Linked DNA regions of Homo sapiens. The protein of the gene in region 1 interacts with the protein of each later gene in a biochemical or structural test. Each region holds a gene or a part of one and is shown in the gene's direction. Other genes may lie near its edges.

Region 1 (10,333 bases):
CGCGGAGACCAAGCTCATTGCTGAGCTCCAGCTAGCCCACAATACATAGTATTTATTAAGCTAAGAGTTAATTGTCTTAAGCGACTAGATAAGATGGATCTGCAGTTAGCATAAAGTTAACTACCCTGCGAAAGAGGAGTTGGTCTTTAAATGGTGTTTTTCACTTGAAGAGAAAAGAAGGTACTGGGCAGGAACATAGCTTAGCAGGCCTAGGGAATGGGTGGAAGGAAAATTGCACTGAGGACTTACATAGAATGTGGTGTTTGTTCAGCAATGATTGAGTAGAAAGGTGATTGTTTCGTTTTGCTTGTTTGGTTGGTTGGGAAATAAATAGGAGTGAAAGATTTCGCCTCGATCTTTATTTAGAGCCCAAGAGTTGTTGTGACTCAGTTTTAGCTGGTAGTGGCTTGTACACGCCAGGGGAGTTTTAGAACTGTTCTGAAGAGAGATGGCAGCAGTTCTTCCACCTTTTCGATGACTGTTGAAATCCTGAAGATTAGCTGTCCGACTGGTTAGGTTACACAAGATGATTCAAACACAGCTTTCATGTTTGAGAAAATAGGTAACTTGTGATTCTTAGTCCTTGCACTAATAAAGCAACAGGAATGAGTAAGTCTTGGAGAAAAAGAGATTAGCAGAAACCCCAAAGTCCTTTGAAGAATGATGTATATAAGGAAGATTTACCTGCTTGTTGTTCGGCTCCTTTTCTAGTAGTATTATTATTAATTTTTTTTCTTGAGACGGAGTCTCGCTTTGTCCCCCAGGCTGGAGTGCAGTGGCGAGATCTCAGCTCACTGCAACCTCCACCTCCCAGGTTCAAGCGATTTTCCTGCCTCCACCTCCTGCGTAGCTGGGATTACAGACGTCCTCCACCACGCCCGGCTAATTACTTTTAGTAGAGATGGGTTTTGCTTTGTTGCTCAGGCTAGTCTCAAAACTCCTGACCTCATGTGATCCGCCCGACTCGGCCTCTTAAAATGCTGGGATTGCAGGTGTGAGCCACCGCGCCTGGCCTCCTATTGTAATATTATGATTTTTTGCGCTTGGAATGACTATCTTTCCGCAGGAATAGAAGAGTGGAATGTGTATCTAATACCACTAATTTTTTTTTTTTTTTTTTTTTTTTTTTTCTGGTAGAGACAAGATCTTCCTATGTTGCCAGGCCAGCCTTGAACTCCTGGGCTCAAGCGAGCCTCCTGCCTCGGCCTCCCAAAGTGCTGGCATTACAGGCATGAGCCACCGTTCCTGGCCTAATACCACTAAAATTAATGAGGAAACATGAACTTCGGGTTACATATTTATATTAGAATTTTTTTCTTTTCTTTTTTGGAGACAGGGTCTTGAGCTTTCACCCAGACTGGAGTGCAGTGGTGCAGTCGTAGCTCACTGCAGCCTCCAACTCCTGGGCTTATGTGATCTTCCCTGTCTCAGCCTCCCAAGTAGCTGGGACTACAGGCATGTGCTACCACCATGGCTCGCTATTTATTTTTAATTTTTATTTTTTATAAAGACGGGCTCTTGCTATGTTGCCAGGGCTGGTCTTGAGCTCCTGGCCTCAAGCAGTCTTCCTGCCTTGGCCTCCCAGCATACTGGGATTATAAGCCTGCTAGAGCTTTTATATAATATGGAAAAGATGAGGCATAAGCTTGAGTGAAGTTGAGCTCAGTTAACTGTAAATTTTCTCATATCCCCTTGAGATGAGAATTGGAGTCATCTTGTAAAACTTGCTCTTTGACAACATGGAATTAATGTTTCATGTGGATAGGTGTATTAATACAGCCAGTTGTATTTGTTGCAGTTGAGTTGTTATGCTTGGGAACTCTAAAAAGTTGAGCAAATCTTTGAGAAACTTCTTGGTGATTTTTATGCTTCTGTTTTCAGTAGACAGTGTAGCTTAATGAGCATGACCTTTGAAGTCAGACAGCCCTGGATTTGAAATCTGGCTCTGCCGCTTAGCAGCCTTACATCCTCTTTGAGTCCTTACTTTCCCATCTATTAAATGGAGGTAATGATATGTTTCTTACAGAGTTGCTCTAGGGATTAAATGACATGAAAGATGTTAAGTGGCTAGCACTCATACTGGCCCACAGAAGGGGATAGGTAGATGGTAACTGTTGTTATTTGTAATTGGGCGTACCTGTTTAATGCAGGAACGATGGCTTGAAAAATACTGAGAAGGGACTCAACTGGTATCATTTTCTACTTTGAATCACTGTATCTATCCAGATGTGGGCTGCAGTAGTGGATTTATGGATTGGGGAAAGTAATCGCATCATGTGTTCCCCCCTGCCCCGCCCCCACCATTAGATTATTATATTTAACAACAACAAAACTTCTGCAAAGCTGTTGAAGTCAAAGTGAACCAGTGGCTCCACCATTATCTTTTTTTTTTTTTTGAGACGGAGTCCCGCTGTGTTGCCCAGGCTGGAGTGCAGTGGCATGATCTTGGCTCACTGCAACCTCTGCCTCCTGGGTTCAAGCTATTCTCGTGCCTCAGCCTCCCGAGTAGCTGGGACTACAGGCGACTGCCACCATGCCCAGCTAATTTTTGTATTTTTAGTAGAGACGGGGTTTCACCATGTTGGGCAGGCTGTTCTCGAACTCCTGGTCTCAAGTAATATGCCTGCCTTGGTCTCCCAAAATGCTGGGATTACAGGCGTGAGCCACTGTGCCCAGCCCACTGTTATCATTAGACTATTCTTTTTAAAATTGTAATGGTGTGGGTAGCTTCAGTTAAGAAAAAAAAAGTCACAAAGATAAGGTGATGGATGTGTAATTGGCTTGAATTAGTCATTCCACACTGTAAACATGTATCAGAACATCTCATTGTACTCCATAAATGTATACAATTATGATTTGTCAATTAAAAGTAATATTAATTTAAAAAAGAAAAAAGACATCTGGGCTGTAATTGGCTGTGGCTTTTAAGATGCTGAAAGGGACCCCCTCAGTGAATTTCATACTTTTTTTTTTTTTTAACCTCAAGGCTCTAACCTAACCCCTGATTCTTATAGAATATGTTGAGGATGTAGTGATTAAAATCCAAGTTAGTGATTAAAGATGATTTTAGAGATTTTTAGGTAGAAACAATGTGTCCAAAATAGTAAGTTTAGCCTTTTAAAAAATCAGCTGCACTTTTTGTATTGTATATAAAATAGTTGCTTTATAGAATCAGAAATACAGATGTATTGAGTACTATGTGTCACTCTAGAAAGGTGACCATTTACTTATTCACATTTAAGAAGCGACTTCTCAGGTATGAAAAGCTTCAGCTGAAGCCAATTTTCTTTTTGTAAAAATCAACATTTTGTAAACATTAAAATGTCACTACATGTGCCTTAAACATTAAGGAAGATTTAATAGATGTCATTTAACTTACTCAAAAGGTTCATGAGACTGAATTACTATTATATGTAGGGTTTGGTTTGAGTCTAAAAGATAATGCAGCTTAGTTACAGAATGCTCAGACTTAGAATGCCTTTCCTTAGGATTTTAAAACTGAAATGATACCTAATTTAATCCAGTTTTATGTAGAGACACTTGATATATGTAGTGTTCTCTTTTGTTTTGAACATTATAAAAAAGAAACACCCTAGTCTTGTCTTTTCTGATTAGTGTCAAGGAATGAAGTATTTTTTCCATTGCTAACTGTTCTGGCAGTTATTGCACAATAAGTCATGTGCCTATATGTGTAATGTATATTGAGTAATCTTTATTTTTAACTGGGGCTTTTAGATATGTTATAGTTATTAAAAAATATCTAATAGGATTTGCCAAAATAATATAGGATAAATCTTATGGACATTATGTATTTTTTAAATGGAAGTATAAAAATTTGTCTACACTTTTGCACATTGTTGATACCTGAAAGGTTAATCCAAGGGAAAGTTTATTACTGCTGAGAATTAGGAAAAGAAGATATTTGGGAAGACTGTAGAAATATGAACCTAGAATCATTTTTTAAAGAGTTTGTAGAAACCTTGATTAAGTAGTCTAATTTTCCCCTCATTTTTTAGATGTGGCTAGCAGATCCAGTGAGGTTAAGTGGAATTCCAAGGCAACAAAGCTAATTCGTAGCAGAGATAGAATTAGAATCTGGGGCCAGTGTACTTTCTACTTTTCCCACCTCTTTAGATCCAGCTGAGGTTAGAACCATAGAACTGTGGATTGGGAGATCTTAATCCATTAAACATCTTTTTTGTATTTAATTTAATTTAAAAAATCAGCTGCAGTTTTTGTATCGTATATGAAATGTTTGCTTTATAGAATAAGAAATACAGACGTAATGAGTACTGTGTGTCTCTCTAGAGAGAGCATTTTAAATCCAGGCATCTTAAGCATACTGACTAACATTTGAGGACTATATATTTATCTATGAACATGAATTAGGAGAAGGAATGATAATCTGTGGAAAGTAAGAGTGGAATATTATGTTTGGATATTTAAATAACTGGCTAACAGGCATTACTGAGTTGTTGAACTACTTTTAGTATCTTTAAAAAGCAGAGGGAGATCAAGACCATCCTGGCTAATGCGGTGAAACCCCGTCTCTACTAAAAATACAAATAATTAGCTGGGTGTGGTGGTGGGCACCTGTAGTCCCAGCTACTCGGGAGGCTGAGGTAGGAGAATGGCGTGAACCTTGGAGGCAGAGCTTGCAGTGAGCCAAGATTGCGCCACTGCACTCCAGCCTGGGCAACAGAGCGAGACTCCGTCTCAAAAAAAAAAAAAAAAAAAAAAAAAAAAAGCGGAGGGCCAGGCGCAATGGCTTACGCCTGTAATCCCAGCACTTTGGGAGGCCAAGGCGGCCGGATCATGAGGTCAGGAGTTTGAGACCAGCCTGACCAACATGATGAAACCCCATCTGTACTAAAAATACAAAAATTAGCCTGGCGTTACTCAGGAGGCTGAGGCAGGAGAATTGCTTGAACCTGGGAGGCGGAGGTTGCGTTGAGCCGAAATTGAGCGACTGCACTCCAGCCTGGGCAACAGAGTGAAAATCCGTCTCAAAAAAAAAAAAAAAAAAAAAGCAGAAATAATTTTGTATTTGATTGTATTGCTTATTATTTAATTTCTTTGGAGGTAAGAATGGCAAAAACCATTTTTAAAGAAAATGGGCTGTGGTTCAAGTCTAGATGTTTTACACATCTGAAACTTGACTGGAGAAGCTAGTCTTCCAATAAGGTGGTCTTCAAGTATAGATTCTGAGTTGTGGAAAATGAGGCATCTTACAAAGGAACATCTCTACCTTCCATAAAGTTTTCTACCCTTCATCCCCGCTCCAATTATTTGTTTTTCCTTGCAGACCAAGAATCTTGAAAGCCAAATGTTCTCATTAAGAAGCTGTTAGAGTGCAATAATGCATTCTAAATGCCTGTCTTAGAAGATATTTCACAAGTTAATGGATTTTTTAAGTTTTTCAAAGATATAGTAAGTGGATGGTTACTGAACATGGATACAAAATACATTGAACCTATAAAAAAGTTACTCAAATATTATTAAAAAATTTTTTTTCTGAAATTTTTTTTGTGTTATCAAAACAATACAGGCTCATTAGCGGAGATGTGAAAAGAATAGTATAAGGTAGAAGAAGCCACTTATTTCTACCATCCAAGATTAACTACTGTCAACATTAAAAGCATTTCGTTTTTGTCTTCTTAATGTGTATATCCAGATGTCTTTTAAAAAGTTCTGAGATAATATTACTTATAATGCTTTATATTCTGGTTTAATTGTTACAGTGTATGCATTTTTCTATCTAAAACATTTTTCATGTCTTCATAGTTTATTCCATTGTGGTATGTCTTGTGGATATGCCATAACATATTTGGTAATTCCCTTATTGGACATTTGAGGGATTTTTCCTATGTTTTCCTATTGTACTCAATTTGATCTGCACTTCCTGAGGATGTGTTCCAGAGTTGGTATTTCTGGGTCAAAAACGCATTTTATGTCATATGGCCAAATTGCTTTCCAGAAAGTGTACACTCCCACTGAGAAGGTCTGAACAGTTTTTGTTTTTTGTTTTTTGTTTTTCCAGATAGAGTCTCGCTCTTGTTGCCCAGGCTGGAGTGCAGTGGTGTGATCTTGGCACACTGCAACCTCCACCTCTCGGGTTCAAGCAATTCTCCTGCCTCAGCTTCCCAAGTAGCTGGGATTACAGGTGTTTGCCACCTCGCCCAGCTAATACTGAGCAGATTTCATATATAAAGTTGGACTTTGGTTAAGCACTTTGTCCTCTGGTATTTTTTAGGACAAACATAGTTTTGTTGATGAAGTAGAACGGTATTTTAAAATTATCCTATTAGATACTGCTCTGTTTGTGTTTAATATATTTTAAGAAGTTCCTTTTTATATTTCAGCAACTGCCAAGACTGATAACTATAGAGAACATAATTCTTTCTGAGACAAGTTCTTGCTCTGTTGCCCATGCTGGAGTGTAGTGGCATGATCATGGCTTATTGCAGCCTCCACCTCCTGGGCCCTGGCTCAAGAGATCCCCCCACCATAGCCTCCCAAGTAGTAGGGACCACAGGCGTATGTCACTACGCCTGGCTAATTTTTTTAAACAAGATTTTTGCTGCTGGGTGTGGTGGCTCACGCTTGTAATCTCAGCATTTAGGGAGGCAGAGACAGGAGGATTACTTGAAGCCAGGAGTTGAAGACCAGCCTGGGCAACATAGTGAGGCCACATTCTCCACATTCTCTCTCTCTCTTTTTTGTTTTTCAGACAGAGTCTTGCTCTATCACCCAGGCTGTAGTATAGTGGCATGATCTTGGCTCACTGCAACCTCTGCCTCCTGGGTTCAAGTGATTCTCCTGCCTCAGCCTCCCAAGTAGGTGGGACTACAGGCACGTGCCACCACACACAGCTAGTTTTTGTATTTTTAGTAGAGACAGGGTTTCACCATGTTGGCAAGGCTGACCTCGAACTCCTGACCTCAGGTGATCTGCCTGCCTTGGCCTCCCAAAGTACTGGGATTACAGGCGTGAGCCACTGCACCTGACCAAGGTCATATTCTCTTAAAAAAAAATATATATTTTTTTTTTGTAGAGACTTCATCTCACTGTGTTGCTCAGCCTGGTCCCGGAACTCCTGGGCTCAAGAGATTCTCCTGCCTCAGCCTCCCAAAGTGCTGAGATTACAGGCAGGAGCCACCACGCCTGCCCCTGAGAACATAGTTCTTTTTTGTTGAGCTTCCCAGGCAAGCCATGTAAATATAAATACAGCTCATCCCCTTTACTTATCATGCTGCTATTTTGTTTTAGAAGTATTGGTAGATTGCATATTCCATAACCCTGATATATTTCAGTATAATCCTTACCTAATCTTGGACCTATTATAGTGGGATGCTGCTTGCTTGCTTGTGTGTGTGTGTGTTTTTTTTTTTGGCGGGGGGATGGAATCTTGCTTTGTTGTCCAGGCTGAAGGGCAGTGGCATGATCTCGGTTGACTGTAACCTCTGCCTCCTGGGTTCAGATGATTCTCCTGCCTCAGCCTCTCCCCAGTAGCTGGGATTACAGGCTTGCGCCACTACGCCTGGCTATTTTTTGTATTTTTAGTAGAGATGGGGTTTCGCTACGTTGGCCAGGCGAGTCTTGAACTTCTGACGTCAAGTGATCCGCCCGCCTCGGCCCAGGCATGAGCCACCACGCCCAGCCTATGAACCTATATTCTTACTTCAGTATGCAAAATGTAGCATAATGTTAAGAATGAGGTTGCTTAAAATCTAGGCTACACACATAGTTAGGCCTGCCTTTTCTTCGCTCTTTTCTTTTTTTTCTTTTTCTTTTTTTGTTTTTGAGATGGAGTCTCACTCTGTCATCCATGCTGGGAGTGCAGTGGCACGGGGATTCAAGTGATTCTCCTGCCTCAGCCTCCCGAATAGCTAGGACTACAGGCACCCGCCACCACGCCCAGCTAATTTTTGTATTTTTAGTAGAGACGAGGTTTCACCATGTGGGCCAGGCTGGTGTCAAACTCCTGTGATCTGTCCGCCTTAGCCTCCCAAAGTACTGGGATTACAGGTGTGAGCCACCGTGCCCGGCCACCATTTTCTTGAAAGCTCATTTTGTCCGGAGAATGTTTTAATGCCAATACATGGACTTCATCATTTGTAAATAGTTCTTATCAGAGGAAAATCTAGGAAAAGAAAGGAAACCTACATTTCTCTCCTTCATAATTTAGCTATTTCGTTTCTAGCTTTTGGCAATCTTATTTCAATAAAAAAATTAAAAAATTTTTTTTTTTTTTGAGACAGAGTCTCACTCTGTCACCCAGGCTGGAGTGCAGTGGCGCGATCTCGGCTCACTGCAACCTCCGCCTCCCGAGTTCAAGCGATTCTCCTGCCTCAGCCTCCTGAGTAGCTAGGGTTACAGGCGCACGCCACCATGGCCAGATAATTTTTGTATTTTTAGTAGAGACAGGGTTTCACGATGTTGGCCACACTGGTCTTGAACTCCTGACCTCAAGTGATCCACCCACCTCGGCCTCCCAAAGTGCTGGGATTACAGGTGTGAGCCACTGCACCCAGCCTACCCGTTTCTTAAAAATATTAAATTGACGTTACAGGTTTTCATTAACCCTTATATGAATATTTTGGTTACTGCCATTATTTTCTACTCTTAAGTGACTGAAATGTTTAACTTTGGTTTTTGTCTTTTTTTCAGAGTTCCGGTAATTTCAGAAATGAAATGATTTGACTAGTTTTATCCTTTGAATTTTTCTGTCATTCTTTCCTTTTTTTGAGACAGGGTCTCACCCTGTCACCCAAACTGGAGTAAAGTGGCATAATCATGGCTCACTGCTGCCTCAACCTCTTGGGTTCAAGCAGTCCTCTGCCTCAGCTTCCTGAGTAGCTGGGGCTACAGGCATGTGCCGTCATGCCCAGCTAATTAAAAAAATTTGTTTTTTTGTAGAGGTGGAATCTTGCTGTATTGCTCAGGCTGATCTTGAACTACTGGGCTCAAGCTGTCCTCCTTCCTTGGCCTCCCAGTGTTGGGAGTACAGGCATGAGCCTGTACTGTGCCTAAGTCCTCCCATCCTTTCTGTAGTAGGTATTGCCCTAAGTTAGGATTGATCATATTCCCTATGATCATCATTATTATTTTTTTTTTTGAGGCAGAGTCTCACTCTGTCTCCCAGGCTGGAGTGCAGTGGCGCGATCTCGGCTCACTACAACCTCCGCCTCCCTGGTTCAAGTGATTCTCCTGCCTCAGCCTCAGGCTCTCCCCACCATGCCCTGCTAATTTTTTTGTATTTTTAGTAGAGATAGGGTTTCACTATGTTGGCCAGGCTGGCCTTGAACTCCTCACCTTAGGTGATCCACCTGCTTCGGCCTCCCAAAGTGCTGGGATTACAGGCGTGAGCCACTGCGCCCGGCTCCTCTCATTATTTTTAACCATCAGAAATTATCTTGTTCTCTTGTTTCTAATAGTCTGTCCCTTTTCACAGAGCCAAGACTTTATCATATTTTACAATGCTGTACCCCATTGCTAAGAACAGTCCCTGCCACATGACAAGCTCTTTAAATACTGAATGAATGAATGAATGAATAATAACAGCAAAGTATACCTACTCCATGCATGTTTAAACTAGGTGCAAGGCATTGTGATAGATAACTTATAAATGTACCAGACAAGGTCATTTATGGTCGGGTATGTGCCATGTATAGGAGAGGAATATTAAGTGCCTTAAGATACAAAATGCTATTGGAATTCTCCCCTGACCCACCCCATTAAGACATTGGAGGAGTTTTATTTAGTAAGGCTGTTTGCTGAGTTTTGGTTGGACAGTGGCAGGAATGGCTTTTGAGCTGGGTTATAAGAGTAGAGGAATTTCATTTATTCAACAAATATGTCAAGCAGTGTTTTGGGCAGCATAAATATAATGGGGAGCAAAGCAGACAATGTTCTTGCCCTTGTGGAACTGCCGATATCATGTGGGGAAAAAAGATATTCAAGCAGGAACAGTGGGAAAAGCAAAGGCACAGCTGAGGGAAAGAAATTTTTTTGTTGGTTTAGGCATAACCTTAGTGAAGGAAAAAGAAACAAAGGCTGGAAAAGTAGATCAGTCAGCTCCCACAGGGCCTTGACTGAGTGTGACATTAGGCATGGAGGGCCACTGAAGGTTTTAATTCAGAGGAATAAGATAAGACCTGTGTTTCCGAAGGATTAATTTAGCAGCAATATAGAGACCATCCGCAAGGAAATTGGTTACAAGGTTATTACAGAGGTCTGGTTGAGAGACATTGAGGGAGACAGTTGGGGAGGAGGGGAAAGGTACGCATTATTATGGAAATAGGATGAGTACAATTTAGCAATTAAGTCAGAG
Region 2 (10,333 bases), on another chromosome or scaffold:
CAGCATCCTGAGATGGCTTTCGGGGAGAAGCCAGGATTTCCTTTCCTCCCCACTGCTGCTTCCCAGCTCAGAGAACTCTGCTTGAAAGAAACTGTAGCTCTCAGAGACGTGCCTTTCCCCGTCCTGGCCACAGGAGAGTCCAGCTCCACCTGTTTCCCAGCTGGCTTTCATGCAGAGGCTCTTCCCTCCCCTCTGCACCCCCACTCTCCCACCCCCAGTGCCTGCCGAATCCCACCCCAGGACCCTCCAGAGCTAGGGCAGAAGCCTGGCCAACCCAGCCTTCTAACAACAGCTGCACAAACTGACTCCATGAGGGTATGCCTTTCTTGAGGGTATGCCTTATTTCTCCCTGTATACCCTAACCCAACACCTAGTAGGTGCTCAATTGAACGAAGTATGTATGTACTTTTTAAATATAATATACAAATAACATCTTGCTTTTAAAAGAACATTTAAAATTAGACTATTTCAAGATTAAAAACTTTTGAGCTTCAAAGGATACTACCAAGAAAATGAAAAGACAACCCACAGAATGGGAGAAAATATTTGCAAATCAAATATCTGATAAGGGTCTAGTATCCAGAATGTATAAAGAACACTTATAACTCAACAATAAAAAGACAAATAATCCAGTTATAAAATGGGTAAAGGATTTAAATAGACCCTTCTCCAAAGAAGATACACACATGGCCAATAAAGATGCTCATTATCATTAGACATCAGGAAAATGCACATCGAAACCACAGTGAGATACTACTTCACACCCCCTAGGATGGCTGTAATAAAAAAGGCAATAACTAGTGCTGGCAAAAATGTGGAGAGATTGGAACTCATATATTGCTGGTGGGAATGTAAAATAGTGCAGCCACTTTGGCACACAGTTTGGCAGTTCCTTGATAAGTTAAACATAGGGTTATGTGTACAGTTCCACTCCTAGATATATACCCAAGAGAACTAGAAATATAAGTCCACTCAAAAACTTGTACATGGATGTTCATAGCAGCATTATTGATAATAGCAAAAGAGTAGAAACAACCCAAATGTCTATTAACTGATGAATGGATGAATAAAATGTGGTATATCTAGGCAGCGGAATATTTTCTGGCAATAAAAAGGGATGAAGTCCTGATACATGCTACAACATGATGGAAAATATGCTAAGTGAAATAAGTCAGATTCAAAGGGTCATATGCTGTATTGATATCTATTCATGTGAGATGTACAAAATATGCAAAGCCACAGAAACAGAAAATAGATTAGTGACTGCATTCACTTCGTATTCCCCTTTCTCCCAGCCCCTGGCAATCACTAATATACAGTATTTCTTTTTGGGGTGATGAAAATCGTTTTTTTTGTTTGTTTTTTTGTTTTTTTGTTTTTTTGTTTTTTTGAGACGGAGTCTCCCTCTGCTGCCCAGGCTGGAGTGCAGTGGCACAATCTTGACTCACTACAAACTCCACCTCCCAGGTTCAAGTGATTCTCATGCCTCTGCCTCCCAAGTAGCTGGGATTATGGGTGTGCACCACCATGCCCGGCTAATTTTTGTATTTTTGGTAGAGATGGGGGTTTCACCATGTTGGCCAGGCTGGTCTCGAACTCCTGACCTCAGGTGATCCACTCGTCTTGGCCTCCCGAAGTGCTGGGATTATAGGCGTGAGCCACTGTGCCCGGCCAGAAAATCTTCTAAAATTAGGTAGTGGTGATGGTTGCACAATTGTGTGAATATACTAGAAACAATTGAACTGTATACTTTAAATGGGTGTATTTTATGGTATATGAATTATATCTCATTAAAACCGTTATATTTTTTCAAATTTAACTTTTCAAAGAATGTTAACATTTAGTGTTTTGGCTGAAATCAAAATAAAAGATTAAAATATGTAGCCATAATCCTATCACCCAACAATTCAAACCAGTTTTTCTGTAATCCCTTCCAGTCCTTTTCCAATCACTTATGTGATTTTCACATGCTTATAATTATGCTCAATTTTTACTCTATATTTCCAAAAGACTCTATGTACATTTTGTGGTGTATCATTTAACAAACATTTATTGAGTATTTCTATGTGCCAGGCACAGTGCCAAGTGTTGACACAAGGATGAATAAAACACTAGTCTTAGTGCCACACTCAGCTCTTTTATATATATGTTTTTTGTTTTGTTTTGTTTTGTTTTGTTTTGTTTTTCTGAGATGGAGTCTCACTCTGCCACCCAGGCTGGAATGCAGTGGCACGATTTTGGCTCAGTACAACCTCTGCCTCCTGGGTTTAAGTGATTCTCCTGCCTCAGCCTCCTAAGTAGCTGGGATTACAGGCACTCACCACCACACCTGGCTATTTTTTTTTTTTTTTTTTTTGAGGCGGAGTCTCGCTCTGTCGCCCAGGCTGGAGTGCAGTGGTGCGATCTTGGCTCACTGGAAACTCCGCCTCCTGAGTTCACGCCATTCTCCTGCCTCAGCCTCCCGCGTAGCTGGGACTACAGGCGCTGCCACCACGCCCAGCTATTTTTTTGCATTTTTAGTAGAGATGGGGTTTCAGCCTGTTATCCAGGATGGTCTCGATCTTCTGACCTCGTGATCCGCCCACCTCGGCCTCCCAAAGTGCTGGGGTTACAGGCGTGAGCCACCGTGCCCGGCCCACACCTGGCTAATTTTTGCATTTTTAGTAGAGACAGGGTTTCATCATGTTTGCCAGGCTGATCTCAAACTCCTAACCTCAAGTGATCCGCCTGCCTTGGCCTCCCAAAGTGTTGGGATTACAGGTGTGAGCCACCACACCCAGCCTCTTTTTAGAATTTATCTAGTAGGTTTTCTGGTTTTCACCAGAAACCACTTCCCAAAAAAAAAAAGAAAAAAAAAGGTAGTCCTGTCCTCAGGAGAATCCTCATAGTACTATAAATCAGAAAGTATTATTTCCACTTTAACAGATAAGGAAATTGAGGCTCAAAGCGGTTAAGTGGAATGTCTGAGGAGGCCCATCTGGTTACTGGCAGCTAGGACTGAGCCTAGTCCTCTGGCTTCCAGGCCTAGGATCTTTCTTTTTTTGAGACAAGGTCTTGCTATGTTGCCCAGGCTGGAGTACAGTGGTGTGATCACAGCTCACTGCAGCCTTGAACTCCTGGACTCAAGCAGTCCTCCTGCCTCTGACCTCCCAAAGTTCTGGGATTACAGGTTTGAGCCACCACGCCCAGCCTAGGATCTTTCTTAAAGTAAACCATGCTCCTGTTCTCCTCATGTTTTTATTGTTCTAAAGCAGTGTGGGTGTTTATTGTTTGTTTGTTTTTGCCTCTTGGCTTATTGATTCTCTACAGAAGCTTGTCCATGTAAAAAAGGTGGGAAGCCCCACCCTTGTCCTAGATGGATTTACCCAAGCTCCCATCACTGCAGCTATGATGGGGCCAATATTTAAACACAAGATTATATGGCTCTAAGTTCACTTAAGTTTGGTCTAAAAAACAAAAAGTATCTATACTAAAGGACATATGAAACAAACAATAACAGTAATTATCTCTGGGTAGTGTGTGTGATTTTCCTTTTCTTCTCTATGCTTTATCTTTCTTTGCTGTAGTTAACAATGTGCTAATTTTGCAGAAGGAATCTACAGACACACACATAGATGTGTGTGCATGTGGTTGCACACGTATTTGGCACCAGCTAAAGGATTACACTCTAGGGACTCTCCATAGGATTTTCCGCTAAAGGCCTGTGTTCTGTGTGGTGCTGCCTAGGTCATCAAGAAGAAGCTGGTGGGATCCGTGAAGGCCTTGCAGAAGCAGTACGTGTCCCTGGACACGGTGGTCACTAGTGAAGACGGAGATGCCAACACCATGTGCAGCGCCCTGGAGGCCGTATTTATCCATGGCCTGCACGCCAAGCACATCCGAGCTGAGGCCGGAGGAAAAAGGAAGAAAAGTGCCCACCAGAAGCCTCTGCCCCAGCCTGTCTTCTGGCCCCTCCTGAAAGCTGTCACCCACAAGTGAGATTTAGCTGGAGAGGTTTTGCTTTGCGGAGGAGCAGCAGACTATGGGACACTTGGCTTTTCCTCCCCAGCTGTTCAGGAAGCCAACAGAGGTGCCCTGTGTTCTAGCATAGAGAGAGGGTGAGGTAGGGGTTGAAAGTGTCTTCTAGAAAGGCTTATCTCTAGACCAAGCTTCCCAGCCAGTGTGCCAGCAGATCTTGAGACCCTCAGCACTCAGGCAAGAGCCTGTGGCTGCTTTGAGACTGGTCACAAAAAGCAGGTGAGACTGGCCACCTTTAGCAGGAACAGCCTTTTTTGCCACACTGGGGCAGAGTTACATAGTTACAACAGAGGTTGTGTGGCCTGCAAAGCCTGAAGAATATACTATCTGGCCCTTTACAGAAGGGCTGACCCTGCCTTGGATTTGCTGACCCTGCCTTAGATTATTCAAACATCCGAATTGTAAATCTTTTTTTTTTTTTTTGGGATGGAGTTTCGCTCTGTCACTCAGGCTGGAGTGCAATGGCGCGATCTCGGTTCACTGGCACCTCTGCTTCCCAGGTTCAAGCAATTCTCCTGCCTCAGCCTCCTGAGTAACTGGGACAACAGGCGCGCACCATCACGCCCAGCTAATTTTTGTATTTTTAGTAGAGAGGGGTTTTGCTATGTTGGTCAGGCTGCTCTCAAACTCCTGACCTTGTGATCTGCCTACCTCCGCCTCCCAAAGTGCTGGGATTATATAAAGAGTGGAATCAGGAAAAGCATATGAATATTCACCCTGAGACACTTATCTCTTTGGCCCCTAACTGTCTGGGCTTTTGAGCAAGTAGCTGGCACTGTGCCTCTGAGGACTACTAAATGCCACCTTCAGCCCAAAAGAAGCCTTGTCAGTCTCTAATCTTCCTTTCCATGCAGATTGCCACTGCCTTGTCTCACGTTCTTCTTTCCTGGGTGACACTGGCTTTCTATTTGTCCCCCTTATCTCACTCTGTCTTTCCTTGAGTCCATCATCTGGTCAACATTTACTGAGCTGAAGCTCCCTGGAGCTTACTCACTGAGCCTAGTAGAGTGCGGTCTACATTCCCATGGAGGAGATAAACCTGCGCTAGGGACTGTGGTAGCTCAGAGGGGCATGTACATCAGACGGAGGCATTCTGGGACTGAGTTTGGTACACCTGGGGTCTGATCTCCTTATGCAGAACATCTACCCTGCAGTCTGCATGACTGTGGTCAAGTCACTTTTCTAAACAAAAATCTGTAGCCTACAGGCTCCCAGATGCTAGCCTGGAGACTGATTCACTAGGTTGGGGTCCCAGAACTTGTATCCTGCTCAAGTTCCCCAGGGGGTTCTGGTGCACAGCTGGGTGTGGGGCCATTACCCCGTGTTGCCTTATTGATTTGATATTTAAGACCCTCTCTTTCCTGGCCTTGCAACCAAACCACCCACTTTTCCGCCACATGCTGTAATTGGAGCGCTCCCCAATCCTCTTACAGGGTTGTTGATTTCCTACACTTTATGCCTTTTTCCATCAGTCCCTTGTGCCTGAGGGCAGGGACCATGTCTTTACCCTGCATCTTCATTGCTCCAAGGACTTTGCACTTAAGGAGCTCTGACAGCATGCCTTAGATGAGCAGATGTGTCAGGGGCCCCGTGGTAGTTGGAATGAACATGGAAATTATCTTTCACAATTCCAATCTCAAAATATATATATATATATAATGTATAAATATATATAATTTATATTTATATATTTATTATATATAAATATAAATATATATATATATATTGCCTAGGCTGGAGTGCAGTGGTCCAATCTCCGCTCACTGTGACCTTTGCTTCCCAGGCTCAAGCTATCCTTCCACCTCAACCTCCCGAGTAGCTGGGTAGCTGGGACTACACGTGCAAGCCACCACATCTGGCTATGTTGTTGTTGTAGAGACAGAGTTTCGTCCTGTTGCCCAGGCTGGTCACGAATTCCTGAGCTCAAGTGATCCACCTGCCTTGGCCTCCCAAAGTGCTGGGATTACAGGTGTGAGCCACCACATCTGGCCTAAAACACTATTACCCAATATTTTTTCATGCCTGTATCTATTTGCAGTAGTTATTCCTGGTTCCTGCTAACCAGTGGATAAAAGCACATCTCTGTGATTTGGGGTAGTTTCTTGAAACACGTCTGTTCTCCCTTCCCAGACACATCATCTCAGAGTTGGAGCACCTGACGTTTGTCAACACGGATGTGGGCCGCTGCCGGGCATGGCTGCGGCTGGCCCTGAACGATGGCCTGATGGAGTGCTACCTGAAGCTGCTGCTGCAGGAGCAGGCCCGCTTGCATGAGTACTACCAGCCCACCGCCCTGCTCCGGGATGCTGAGGAGGGCGAGTTCCTCCTTAGCTTCCTGCAGGGCCTCACGTCCTTGTCCTTCGAACTCTCCTACAAGTCTGCCATCTTAAATGAGTGGACGCTCACCCCATTGGCCCTGTCTGGGCTTTGCCCGCTTTCTGAGCTGGACCCTCTCTCTACCTCTGGTGCAGAACTACAGCGGAAGGAATCTCTGGATTCCATTTCCCATTCTTCAGGCTCTGAAGACATCGAAGTCCATCACTCGGGCCATAAGATACGGAGGAACCAGAAGCTGACTGCCTCCTCCCTCAGCCTGGACACGGCCAGTTCATCCCAGCTGTCCTGCAGCCTAAACTCTGATAGCTGCTTACTCCAAGAGAATGGCTCCAAGAGTCCAGACCATTGCGAGGAGCCCATGTCCTGTGACTCAGACCTGGGCACAGCAAATGCTGAGGACTCAGACCGGTCTCTGCAAGAGTGAGTACGCTGCCCCCACTCCTTCCCATCTTCTCTCTTCCCTCCTTTCTTTCCTCTCCTCCTCCCTTTCTTCCCATAGCATGTGATTGTCTGTTACTGAACTCTATTAGTAATTAAAGAAAGCCAAGGGAGTCATCGACTTCTCCAGGGACTGGAGTAGCTGGGAACTGTAGCAGGCAATACAGGCATAGTGGAGAAAGTGGACTTAGAACAGCTTAGAGCTGGTTTGGGCTCCAGCTCTGCCCCGGTGACTTTTAGCAAGTTACTTGGCCGGGTGCGGTGGCTCATGCCTGAAATCCCAGCACTTGGGAGGCTGATACAGGAGGATTGCTTGAGCCCAGCAGTTCGAGGCCAGCCTGGGCAATGTAGCAAGATCCTGCCTCTAAATTAAAAATAAATAAATAAATAAAACAAAAACTGAAAACAAACAATAACAACAAAAAAACAAGATACTTAGTCTCTACAAGGCACAGTGTAAAATATTGTTGTCTTCATCTAGAAGGAAGGAAACTAATAGGTCAGAGTACATTTAAAACGTCCAACAAATAGATGAAACATAACGCATAAGAGTGTGACTTCACAGAATACCTCCTGGGGGACACAGGACCTGAGTGCTGCATGCAGGAGGTGGTGGACAGGTGGGGACAGACAGATGTGTGGAAGAGTATGTGGGGCAGATGAACTAGGCTGAAGAGAGAACTGGGCAGAGCCTTCTTCACACAGCCTTTTAAACATTTTTTTGCAGCTGGGCACGGTGGCTCACGCCTGTAATCCCAGCACCTTGGGAGGCCAAGGCAGGTGGATCACAAGGTCAGGAGATTGAGACCATCCTGACTAACATGGTGAAACCCCGTCTCTACTAAAAATACAAAAAATTAGCTGGGCATGGTGGCGGGCGCCTTGTAGTCCCAGCTACATGGGCGGCTGAGGCAGGAGAATGGCATGAACCCGGGAGGTGGAGCTTGCAGTGAGCTGAGACCGCACCACTGCACTCCAGCCTGGGTGACAGAGTAAGACTCTGTCTCAAAAAAAAAAAATAAATAAATAAATAAAATAAAAAATTTGCATAGATAATCTTTTTATGGTTAAAAAAAATCTAAAACATATACAGTGAAAGCCTTTCCCATTCCTGTTCTCCCTCTACCCTGTTCTTTCCTCCCACCCCTAAAACCATAATAATTTCCTGTATATTCTTCCAAATTTCTAAATGCATCTACAACAAATACCAGTATAAAGATTTTCAGCTGGGCGCAGTGGCTCACGCCTGTAATCCCAGCACTTTGGGAGGCCGAGGCGGGCGGATCACAAAGGCAAGAGATCGAGACCTTTCTGGCTAACACGGTGAAACCCCATCTCTACTAAAAATACAAAAAATTAGCCGGGCGTGGTGGCGGGCGCCTGAAGTCCCAGCTACTCAGGAGGCTGAGGCAGGAGAATGGTGTGGACCCAGGAGGCGGAGCTTGCAGTGAGCCGAGATCGTGCCACTGCACTCCAGCCTGGGTGACAGAGTGAGACTCTGTCCCAAAAAAAAAAAAATAAAAGATTTTTAAAATTTCTTCCTTATTTATTACTTTCTCTCCTACAAAGGCAGTATATACACACTGTTCTATATCTTGTTTTGGAGAAGATCTTTTCATTTCAGAGCTTCTTCATTCTTTTATTTTTATTTTTTATAGAGACGGGGGTCTCACTGTGTTGCCCAGGCTGGTCTTGAACTCCTGGGCTCAAGAGATCTTCCTGCCTCAGGCTCCCAAATTGCTGGGGATTACAGGCGTGAGCCACTGCGCCCAGCCTCATTCTTTTTTTTTCTATTGCATATTGTTCTAGTGTATGAATGTACCTTAGTTTACTTAATCAGCCCAGTATTTAATGGGTGCTGGGGCCTGTGTTTTCATAAATAACCTTGTGTATGTGGTCTTTTAGTTCTGCGTAGCTATCTCTGTTCCATAAACTCCCAGAAGCAAAATTGCCGAGCAAAAGGATAGACTAATATGGAATGTTCACAGATTATTGCCCATTTACACTCCACCAGGAATGTCCTTGTTTCTTAGCCTTGCCAACTGATGGTATTAGTGAACTTTTGGATATTTGCTCATCTGATAGGTGGAAAATGGGAACTTCTTATTAAAAGCCTCCTTCAGCTGGATCCATGCTGCATCAGCGGAAAAGAAGGTCCCACGTGTTTGGGACCTTCTTTCCACTCGCCCTGTGCCCTCGCCTTGGTTCAGGTCCCTCCAGGGTTCTCACCCACCATGGAAAGAGCACCAGCGTTGGGTGGTGTTACGGACTGGGCTTGGAGCCGACCTAGTTTCGAGTCCTGTTCCACCACTTACAAGCCCAGGAAGGTCAGGCACATTGTTTGTTAGTCAAACAATATAGGAGATTGTCTCGTAGTCCCAGAAATGGCTTCTGAGCATATTAGGTGGAGTTTTCAAATGTTAAATGGAGGAATTTAGATAGAATACATTGGGGAGGAACAGTGTCTGCCTCCTGTGACCACTGGGACCATGGCATGACAGGCCTGCAGTGTGACCCAGGCACAGGGCATGACCTAGGTTCACTCACCTGTCTTAGCCCTTCCTGTGTGTCTGCCTCCTCTGCAGACCAGCCAGCCATCCCTTGTCATATGTCTCGCCTTTATCTCATGTGTCTTGTGATGGAAAATTCCAGCTTAAGGTCACTGAATCAGTGACCATCCTCTCTGTGCAGGAAGTGTTGTCCCGGCTATTATGGGGAAACTGGAGGGTCAAGGGTCAGGATGTATAGACAAATGCCGGACAGTGGTGTGAGTAACTGGCAAATGTAAGACATACAGATGCACAAACACACAGCCAGCACCAGCATTCATAGAGCTGGGCCTTGAAGTTAGTCCTTGAGCATCCACAGAGACCAGCATTTCTTGAAGTGTATATTTCAAGGGTAAAATGTTCTCACCGACATTTAGAGTTCATCAAAGTTGTTACATTATTTAAATATTTGTAACTTTAAATTAGACATAAATTCCTTGTGCTTATCATTACACATATAAAATCAAAACATCCACAAATCAAACATAAAGAAAAGCATAAAAGACACAACATTCAAAATGAAATTTATTAATATAAAGCGGTTCTGTTTGGCAGAAACCAAATTGCAGTTGGCCTAGTGAATTGACTGTCCTAAATAGCTTCTTCCGTGTAGATTGGATCTGTATTATAATCATCACTGAGTGGCATAGGTATAGTCTGGAGGGTTTAAGTACTTAGATTTAAGTACTTAGAATGGTCCCTGGCACAGAGGCATCAATAGTGCTCAATTGATGGTATTGTTGTATTTTATTTTATTCAATATTTTATTTATTTTTTGAAACGGAGTCTCGCTCTGTCCCCCAGGCTGGAGTGCAGTGGCATGATCTCGGCTCACTGCAACCTCCGCCTCCTGGGTTCATGCGATTCTCCTGCCTCAGCCTCCCGAGTAGCTGGGATTATAGGGGCCTGCCACCACACCCAGCTAATTTTTGTACTTGTTGTAGAGAAAGGGTTTCACTATGTTGGCCAGGTGAACTCCTGACCTCAGGTGA
Region 3 (10,238 bases), on another chromosome or scaffold:
ATGCCCCACTGAGTGTGAATCTAAAGTTGAAAGATGTTTACCAAGCATGGTGGCACATGCCTGTGGTCCCAGGCTGAGGTGGGAGGGTGGCCTGCGCCTGGGAGGTGGAGGTTGCAGTGAGCCAAGATCACTGCACTCCAGCCTGGGTGACAGAGCCAGACTTAGTCTCGAAACAAACAAACAAACAAACAAAGTTCAAAGATGCATTCTTTTTTTTTTTTCATGTAACATGGCCTCTTAAGTCGAAACCACCAACTTCTGGTCGTCAGCCAAAGGAATGCTTCAATGACAATAAATGAGTCTCCGGTAGGGTGCTTTCCTGGGAAAATTTCAAGCTTGCTTTTTACCTCATTAATGTCATGCCCTCATAAGCTGTGACACGAGAGGATATTTTTTGGGAGGGGGTGGTATAAGGTGTATGGGGAGATGAAAGGGCACTATTTCAATGGACACACAATTTCTTTTACAATTGAATACAGAATGTACTTATTGTTACATTTATGCATCACCTTTTTTTAGTGTGATAAGTTGAATCTAATCCTTTTTCATACCCAGAGACGAATGAGTCTCATGCCCTTGATTTTGATTTCTTTGTCAACCTACTAAATTTTGAAGTATATTAATTGCTGTTTCTGTTTTGGTTAATGTCGACAGCCATACCACCATGACCGCACCTGATCTCAACTTTTTTTGGTTAAACTAGCTTTTTTGACCATTTCTTTTTAATTAAATTATGTATCACTGGAAGTTAATCAACTACATTAAAATATATTCGTTTTTTAAATTAGGTAGAACACACATGTGGTAATAAAATTTAGAGTACAAATTGTATTAGTTCTTCTAAATCTTCAATACTGCTTCAGGAATTGGGACACCAGTATTTTAAAGTCTGAGTGTGGCTCGGTGGCAACTCCAAAACCACTAAACAAAAAAGATTCAAGCATAGGGGTAGGGGGGAATCTCCAATTCAAGATAAGCCTATGAACCAAAATTCACAAGCATAAGAGGAAAATGAACAAATAAAATTAAGCCTATAATGAGGAGATGAATTAATTTTGTTTAAATAAACACAACAGAGAGATCTGAAAATGACTTTAATTGTTTAGGCTCTGGGAAGAGATGAAGGATAAAATAACATCTACTTTTTACAAAACAATTTATAAAAATACAAGCAGAAATGAAGCCAGAGCAGGTGACAAACAACCTGCACACCTGGAGGATTCCAGGCATCTTCCCAGGAACAGGTGACCCCTCACACATTTGCTATATCTTCCAGCAGATGGTTAGCTTGTGTCATTATGCCACACTCCTCTCTGATGGACACTTCTTTGCCGTACTCCAATCTGGGACTAGAAAGTCAAGGTGGGAGGAAGGGATAAGGGGAAGCAACTTCAGCCCCTCTTCATCTAAGGTTCTCCCCACACCATCCAAAGCCCCTCCAGTGCTGTCTCTCTCCATCTGTGTTCTCCTTTGTGCAGGAAGCAATAGGGCAGAGCAGATCAGTGCTGCCCAAACAGATAGATATCCAGGGAGTTGTCAGTCCCATCTTCCTGCAGGCACACCCAATCCTCACTGGTGATTCTTTTGGAGCCCCTCTCCTTTGGTTCTAGATGAGGACACAGTCTCCATGAGGGGACAGAAAGAAGGCGTCTCTTTCCATGACATTACAATTTCCCTAAAGGCTGACTTCCCTCCCATGTCTCCAATCTTTCTTTCCACAGATTACTGGTGATGGTGTGTCTGTGGGGATGGGGTTGGAAATGGGGAATAGGTGAGGGAGTAGTGGAGTGGAGGTAGAAGTTGGTCAAGAGCTGACTTCTTCAACAACTGCTCTTCAAATTCCCTGCTAGAAGGTAGCTGGCCCCAGCCACTGGCAGTTTTTTCAGTGTAGAATGTGAGCTCCTTGTGGGCTTTTTATTTTCAAGTTTGGGCTTCAGCAACAGATCCAGGACAATAGGAAGAGATGTATACATGGAATAAACCCCTCTCAATGTCTAGTTACATAAACATACATGTCTTCTTTGCCCTCCTCTTATAGTTTAACAAATGTTGGCATACTATTTAGTTTTCTGCACCTTGCTTTTTTCCCTCCAAGTATTTCCTAGACATTGTTCCATATCAGGACATATACATGGGCCTCATTCTTTTTGATGGCTGCATAGTATTTCACAATATAGATGTACTATAATTTACTATTACAGCTTTCTAGTGATAGACATTTAGTTTGTCTCTAGTTTTTTGTTATTACAAACAGTGCTGCAGTGACTATTCCATGTATACATCTCTTCTTATAGAAACAACTTTTTAAAAAAGTTAAGTAGAAACCCCAATGGATGTTTGGCACCCAATGGACAGTCCCTCTTAATTATGCTGCAACTGGTCACATACACTCTCCTCACTTTGAAAATTCTGGGACTTATTAAAAGAATTGACCATTCCTACTGTTTTTTAATTGCATTCCTTAGCATGTGATAGGCACTCTGCATCCACAAGAGTGTTTCTGTTCAAAGCTGCATCAAAGTGTAATGTCTTTCACATAGGAAAGCAGCAGTTAGGGACCTGCATTTAAGCTGGCTATTGTGAAACAAGAGCAAATAAGGGAGGAAATGGAATAGGGCTTAGTACAGCCCTGAGGTCACATGTTGCCAGATTTAAGTCCCACCCAATTTTCACCTAAACGACTTTAGATCTGTATGACACTCAGTTTTTTCATTCATAAAATGGGGTAAATATAGTACTGACTTCATGCGGATGTGGTAAGGATTAAATGAGAAAATATGCATGATTCTTAGGACAGTTGCTGGTACATAGTAAGTGTTGAATAAACATCAGCTATACATAAAGATCTCCCTTCAGGTGATAATGGCTATAAGGAAACTTACTAGCCAGGTCTAAGTTCATACCTGGGCAATTAATGATCATTGGTTCACAGTTTTCTCCTTTACTTGGCACAGGCAAATTTCTTAGTTTCAAAAATGTTAAAGTGTGACAACAAACTATACTTATTAAAGAATGTGGAAATAGAAGCCTAGACCTCTAGGGTTGCAAAAGGATTTCAATATCACCTTAGATTAGATTATCATGTAATAATCATTTCCATTTCTTATTATATACCAGATATTTTGCATATACTATCCCATTTAATTTTCACAAAGACCTATTTGAGAGAGATATTACTATTTTCATATTGCAGAAAAGACTGACAATCTCAGAAATCAAGTGACATGCACAACTGCATACCATTAGATTATAGAGCAGGAATTCGAACCCAGGTCTCTGAAAATATGAGATGTACAAACTGGCACACACTTTTACAGTGAAATCTCACTTGTTCATGGCAGAACCAGTTCATAAAAGGTCCTGAACGCTAAGAGAAAGATTGATTTAATTTGGGGGTGGGGAACTAAGGCAGGGCCACCTTATCCATTAGGCACAGTACAGTATGCACAGGGCTTAGGGCCTCCAATACTTTTAGGGGCCAACAAAAATGAATATTTATTTATTTTAGAGACAGGGTCTCCCCATGTTGCCCAGGCTGGAGTGCAGTGGCTGTTCACAGGTATGATCCCATTACTGATCAGCACGGGAGTTTTGACCTGCTCCATCTCCGACCTGGGCCGGTTCATCCCTCCTTAGGCAACCTGGGTGGTCCCTCCCTCCTGAACTTAAGTGCAGACACTCTATCTAGTGACACAGTGCACTACAGCCCAGAACTCCTGGGCTCAAGCGATCCTCTCTCCTCAGCCTCCCCAGTAGCTAGGATTACAGGCGCAGACTACCAGCCCTCCTTGCTTACGTTCCTTTTTTTTTTTTTTTTGAGACAGTCTCGCTCTGTTGCCCAGGCTGGAGCGCAGTGGCGCGATCTCGGCTCACTGCAAGCTCCGCCTCCCGGGTTCACGCCGTTCTCTTGCCTCAGCCTCCCGAGTAGCTGGGACTACAGGCGCCCGCCACCACGCCCGGCTAATTTTTTTGTATTTTTAGTAGAGACGGGGTTTCACCGTGTTAGCCAAGATGGTCTCGATCTCCTGACCTCGTGATCCGCCCGTCGTGGCCTCCCAAAGTGCTGGGATTACAGGCGTGAGCCACCGCGCCCGGCCGGCTTACATTCTTTTAAAGTCAGAAGAAAAAAATGAACTTTCAGGTCAGAGAAAATATTTTGTTATATAATATTGATACGTCATGTTTATATCAATGCAGTTGTAAAATATGTTAAATATTTATACATATATTTAACTTACATGTGTGTGAAATATATGTGTGTGTGTAATGTACAAGCCACAAGGCAAAAGTGCTCAGGGTCCAAGAAAGTCAAAACGTGTCCCTGCACCCGAAAAGCACGAAACCTTCTGGGGCAGTGATTATGGCAGAGCAAGTTGGAAGATGGCAGGTGGTAGACAAATTGTGAAAAATATCACATTTCTCTCACCCTGTCAAAGGCAACCCCAAAGTGAAGTCAAAATAGAGATGAAATGCAGGGTCACTTCCTAGCTGCGTGATCTTGGACAAGAGAGTTGACCAACCTGAGCCTCAGTTTCTCCATGGATACAATGGGGATGCGTGCCTCCGACGTTTGTTGGACAGGACCGGTATATACGAAGCATACAGCGGTATATACAGTAAATGCCCCCATAAATACACGTTGAATGAATGCAGTAAATGCATGCTTAGCATGGTGGCCAGTATACGGTAAGCGTCCAATAAGTGGTAAATGTTGGCTTTAAAAATTGTTCAAAAGTCTCCACGAGCGACAACCCTAGTTCTCCAAGACGCAGGCGCACCCCACCAGGTTCCACGCAGACCTGCGCAGTAGCTCCCCCAAGAGGCGAGGACACGCGACTGCGCTTGCGCATACGCGCTTTCCACCTTCCCTCCGGGCGCGAGCGCCCGTGGGGCGGGCCTCAGCGGCGGCGCGACAAGTCCAGAGGTGAGGGCTGAGGAAGGGGCGTGGCTAGCGGGCTGGCCTCAGCCACCCTCTTCCGGGCTCCGCCAGCTGCGCGCGCATCTTCTCCCCCTTCTTTTGTGGTCCGGCCCATTGCGAGGGTGACAGGAAACCCTGTGCAGGGAGCGCCGCCATCTTGGACCAGCCCGAGGAAGATACTGAGGGAGCACAGGAGCAGTCACCGCTGCCACTGCTACTGCCGCTACTGCTGCCGGCGCGTCTGCACCTCTCGGCCTGCCAGTGTACCTGCCGGCGCCTCGGTCGACCGCCCCCGCCCCCTCTCCCGCTGCGTCCGCACTCCTGTTCCTGGTCCTGACGCCCCCCTCCCGCCCGGAAAGCTGCCCAGCCACCAGCAACCCCCCAGGTAACCCGGGCCTTCCGTAGTGTCCGGCCGGCTGATACCTCCTCGCGCCGGGTTCTTCAGAGGGGCGTGTGTGGGGACGGTGGAGACTGGGCCGCAGGCGGGCGGCGCCCCGGGGCCAGGCCCCGTCAGGCCGTGGCTAGCCCGTGGGTCGGCGGTGAGCGCCGCGGCGCCGGCCTGACAGGACTCCTGGGCGGGGGCGGAGGTGTCCCCTGCGCGGCTCCGGCCTGAGCCTCCTGCCCTCCCCAACCGGCGGGGCGCTCCGAGGCGTGCAGGGAAGGGTGTGTTCCGGCCTCGCCTTCCCCGCCTTCTCGGCGCGGCTGGGCAGGACCGCATCTCCCGCGGGCCCCCCTCTCGCCGCTGTTCCCCGCGGCCGCAGCCCGCCCCCGCAGGGTGTACCCACGCGTGCCGCGCCGCCCTGCAGCCCGCAAGCCCCAGACGTGGCGGTCCCGTCCCGTAGGCCGCGTCTGGCTCTGAGTACAAAGGCAGCTCTTCGCAGCCCTCTTGGCGTCTCGGGGCAGCTCCGGTGTCCTTGTCGATGTGGGGAGCCCGGCCCTGCAGCCGGGCCGGGCCGGGGCCGGGGTCTGGGTCTGTGCGCCTGTGCTTGCGATGTCCTGGTTTTGGTGCGTTCCTGTGAGGCCCGTGGACAGCCTCTACGGCCCTGAACCTACAGAGCATCTAGAAATAAGAGAAAGTTGTGGCATTTCTAGAATCTAAGAGAAGACGACAGAGCTGGAGTGTTTTAAGCGTTTTAACTGTGGGCCAGGTACATATTTATGTATTTTTGTACCTATTTATCTTGCCCCGCGTAGCCCTCGGAGATAAGTTGTCTCCACTTCATAAGTGAGGAAACTGAGGCCTAAAGTTGTGATGTGTGTCTGGCTGTTGATGGTACATTACAAACTGGCTTCGGCTCACACTGTGGCTGGTGGTTTCTGTACTACATTCAAAAATTAGGCTAGGGTTACAGACATGACCATTTATAATGTAGTTACAACTTTATTCCTTTTTTACTGTGTTCGCATTGGATGACAGCTGATTACCCTTTTATGACCTAAAGTCCATAAAGTCAACCACTACACTGGCAAATCCTCATGCTTACAAACCCCAAAGGAGAGATGCCAGGATTTCAGTTTCATATATGAAGAAGAAACGGGTTCCAAGAGGACAGGTGCCTTCCTGGTGACCCCACAGCAAGTGTCAGAGCCCAGATTTGAACTCTTGCAAAGTTTACTGCTCATTTCGTTACTATCCCAACTGCCTTTAAAAAATTCTTTTATTTTTCTAAGGTAAATATTGTAGAGGAACAACTGCCTTTTATTTAGATTTGATTGTTGAAGACAAACTTGACCTTGCAGTAATCCAGCTCCTACCCCTTTATTCCCCCAAGCCTTTCCAAATTTTTTCTTCCAAGTTCTGTTTAGGCAGTTTTATTTGATCATGCCTAGAGGTATGTCGTGGTTAAGAGTTTTGGAGTCATACTGTCAAGGGTTCTCCCTCCAGTACTGCCACTTCCTAGTTAAGTGATCTTAAGCAAGTTACTTAACCTTTCGGACTCAGTGTCCTTATCTATAAAGGGGATAATTGGACCTGCATCTTAGAGTTGTTGCTAGGATTAAATGGGGTTTAAAGAAAGCCCTTAGCACATTGCTTGGCATATAGTAAATCAGTGCCTGTAACAGTGCCAGGCACATAGTGGGTGTTTAATATCTTTTGAATGAATGAGAGAGGAGTATAGCTTTGGAGAGCTACATGTAGAGTTAAACCTGGGCCTTAATTCTAGCTCTCCATTTAGTAGTAGTATGACCACGGGTAGATCACTTCGGTTTCCTTATCTGAAAAATGAGTTTTTAGGATTAGAGACTGTTTATAAAGTAGCTGGCATGTGTTAGGCCCTCAATAAATGGCAGTTATTGTAAAGACGTAAAACCTTAGATTATAATAGCTATTAAAAAATCCCTTGAAATTAAAGCTACATCTTAAAAAGTTGTTGCTTTTTTTGTATTACAGTTAAACTTTATCATTGTTGCATACTTCAACTTTGCAACAGAATTTGGAGTGTTCATTTTTATCAATATCAAATATCTTTGCATAGTCACAGTAAGATATTGTGCTAGTGGAGGAAACTTGATTAAGGTAAATAAAATGTGAAAACTTGGGCTATTGAGAGATGTTTCATGTTTTTTAAAAGAGGCTTGAAACATTTTTATGTGGTAAAAAATGCCAGGCATGGCTAAAGACAACAGTTTGACAAATAGAAGTATTAGAGGTACTGTACTTGACTTTTAAAAAGCTTCTTATTCTAGACAATTTTAAATATATACAAAATCAGGTAGCATACTGAGCATTCATATACCTATCAGCCAGTGTCAACAGTGATCAGTCTTGCTTCATCAATATACACTTGCCTCCTCCTTGCCAAATTATTTTGAAGCAAATCTCAGACACAATATCGGTAGTAAAATTTTCACTATTAATCCTTTTAACTTGAGCAGTAAGTGCAGGGGTTTTTTTTGGCTTTTTGGTTGTTAAGTGCTTTCTTTCTGTAAACAGAGGTCCAGTATTAGAATACTTTATTTCCTGTATATAGAAGACCATCAAAGTTACTTTTGCCACATTAAGCAATCCAGCTTTTAAAAATGATTCACATTATTTATATAAAAGTGACATTAAGTATATTGTCAAAAGTAAGGTTTTTTTTTTAAGTGGGTGGGCTACTTGTACTACTGTTGAGGAAATTGACCACTCATTTTTATTAGATTAGATTATTAGATTAACTACAGAAGTTTTATCCGCCTGACTGACAAATCAGGTAGTAGTGGTCCATTTTAGTGGGCCTCTAAAGCAAGTCAGCATGCTTCTGTTGTTGAGTTCCACGAAGGCAGAGACAGTGTTGTCTTTTTTGATCATTGCTGTCTTGCTAAAGCCTGGCACAATGCTTTGTGCTTAGTAGATACTTAACAGATATGTTTATGTTGGAACTACAGAAGCAGTCCATCTCAGCTCTGGTATTTTTAACAAAACGTCGTGCATGTTAAAAAACAAACAAAAAACTTATCAGTGGAAATAACAAGGATAAGAATTAAATTACCTGGAATATTTAATGGGTTGCTTTTCCCTTGTTATGTCTTGGATCAGCTATGTAAAAATTATACAGTAACATCATAGGTTCTAAGGAGTAGAATAGCTGTATAACAGTTTTTAAAATCAGAGCAAACAGTAAGTAGTTAAGCTATTAAAAAACTCCCAAAAATATGCCCTCTACTATTGAGTGTTGGTTTTTCTATTTTGAACCCAATCGTATTATTGGCTTCATAAGATATTCCTCTTATTATCAGTAAATGCGGAAATAATGTTGGGAATATTATGAGTGGGAGATTTGTTTGTTTTTGTTTGGGTATTCTTTAACCTGTATTAAAATAGAAAAGGGCTTTTGAAATATTTATCGGTAGAGAAAATTTTATTTTTAATTCATTATAGTAAGTCAGTGCAGGGATATATAAAGAAAAGTTAATAATTTCTCTATTCCCTGTTTCTCCTGTCCATGTATTTTTCACAATTTGGTGTGTATTCCATATTATATGAATATAGGGTTGAGTGTGTGTGTGTGTGTGTGTGTGTTTGAAAGTGGGGTATGCTGTTGCATAAAACTCTGCAACATGTGTTTTTTCACTTAACAAAATCATGGATGTATTTCCAGGTTAATGCATATCAATCAAAATGGTTTCTAAACTACATGGATATTATTTTGTATTATAGATGTACTTTATTCAGTCATTTCTTTGCTGATTATTTCCAGTTTTTTGCTGTAAAAATGGTGCATTAAATGCACTAATACCTGTAGCCTTATGGGCTGAAGCTTTTGTATATGTAGGATACTTTCTGGGCCAAAGGATGATTTGGATTATTGTTAAGATTTTTAAACATACTGATTACTTTCCAAAATGTTGGCACATTTCCACAAGCAGTATGTATGAAAGTGTATACCTTCACATCTGTACCTACATGTTTCAAAACTAGTCGTTTATATGTCTGTGTAATCTTAGAAAGGTGTCTGATTCAGTAAATAGAAACCATGCATTCTATTTTTGTCACAACAATAATTAGTGTTTAATATTTGTTCAGTAACCACTTAGATCTAAATGTACTGACATGAAAATGTGTCTATCATTTTGTTGAGTAAAAGAAATATGCAGAATTTTACAAGATGGCGTACCCCATTTTAAAATACATTTTTCACCTTAACAGTGGTGAAAATGGTGGTGAAAAATGGTATATTTTCACAGTGGTGAAATGGTATGTTTCCCCAGTGGTGAAAACTGGTATGTTTCATGTTCAGGAGATGAGGTTGAGAAATCCTTTATTAAAGCAATATTAAGCATATTAATATTTTTAAGGAGTCAGTTGAATACATGGCACAGTTGTTAGTGTTTACTATGCATTTAGTAAATATTTCTCTTGGCAGCAAGGGTAGTTTATAGCTAAATTTTACATGCACTAATATCCTTCCTCTTTCTCTGATTTTTATTTTATCAGTCTACCTGTACATACCTGAAATAAGCTAATAATACCTTAGAGAAAATCATGGTCTTTGGAATCAGGCCTGGGTTCAAGTTCTAGGTCTACCATTTACAAACTTTATAACATTGGCCAAATGAGTGAATTTCTCCAAACCTCAGTTTCTTTAATTTTTTGCATGGACATAATGATAATGACTCTGCAGAGTTGTGAGAATTAAGTAAGAATTATAAAAAGTAGTATAGATCATTACATGGTTTACTCTCAAGTGTTCTCAAGAAACTTTTTCTAAGTAAATGAATTATAGTATTATAAGTTAGTATTACTAGTATTACCAGTCATTTATATCTATAAATTCTGACTGCAGTGCATCCTCTGAATGTAATTCATGTATCTTATTCAGAATATTAAATTATAATT

Evidence for each region.
Region 2: the proteins of ARL8B (region 1) and PLEKHM1 form a complex in vitro, tested with the Homo sapiens proteins (one study listed by BioGRID and IntAct).
Region 3: the proteins of ARL8B (region 1) and RAB14 form a complex in vitro, tested with the Homo sapiens proteins (one study listed by BioGRID).

The regions. Positions count from the first base shown.
Region 1 is NC_000003.12:5,123,155-5,133,487, forward strand, and holds part of ARL8B (ADP-ribosylation factor-like protein 8B), read left to right. Parts: exon of another isoform or gene 1-562; intron 563-5,305; exon of another isoform or gene 5,306-5,661; intron 5,662-10,333. UniProt on the Homo sapiens protein: Small GTPase which cycles between active GTP-bound and inactive GDP-bound states.
Region 2 is NC_000017.11:45,471,541-45,481,873, reverse strand, and holds part of PLEKHM1 (pleckstrin homology domain-containing family M member 1), read left to right. Parts: intron 1-2,785; exon of another isoform or gene 2,786-2,832; intron 2,833-3,726; coding exon 3,727-3,974; intron 3,975-3,986; exon of another isoform or gene 3,987-4,236; intron 4,237-5,960; exon of another isoform or gene 5,961-5,986; intron 5,987-6,147; coding exon 6,148-6,774; intron 6,775-10,333. UniProt on the Homo sapiens protein: Acts as a multivalent adapter protein that regulates Rab7-dependent and HOPS complex-dependent fusion events in the endolysosomal system and couples autophagic and the endocytic trafficking pathways.
Region 3 is NC_000009.12:121,196,704-121,206,941, reverse strand, and holds the start of RAB14 (ras-related protein Rab-14), read left to right. Parts: upstream 1-5,072; 5' UTR 5,073-5,303; intron 5,304-5,341; exon of another isoform or gene 5,342-5,459; intron 5,460-10,238.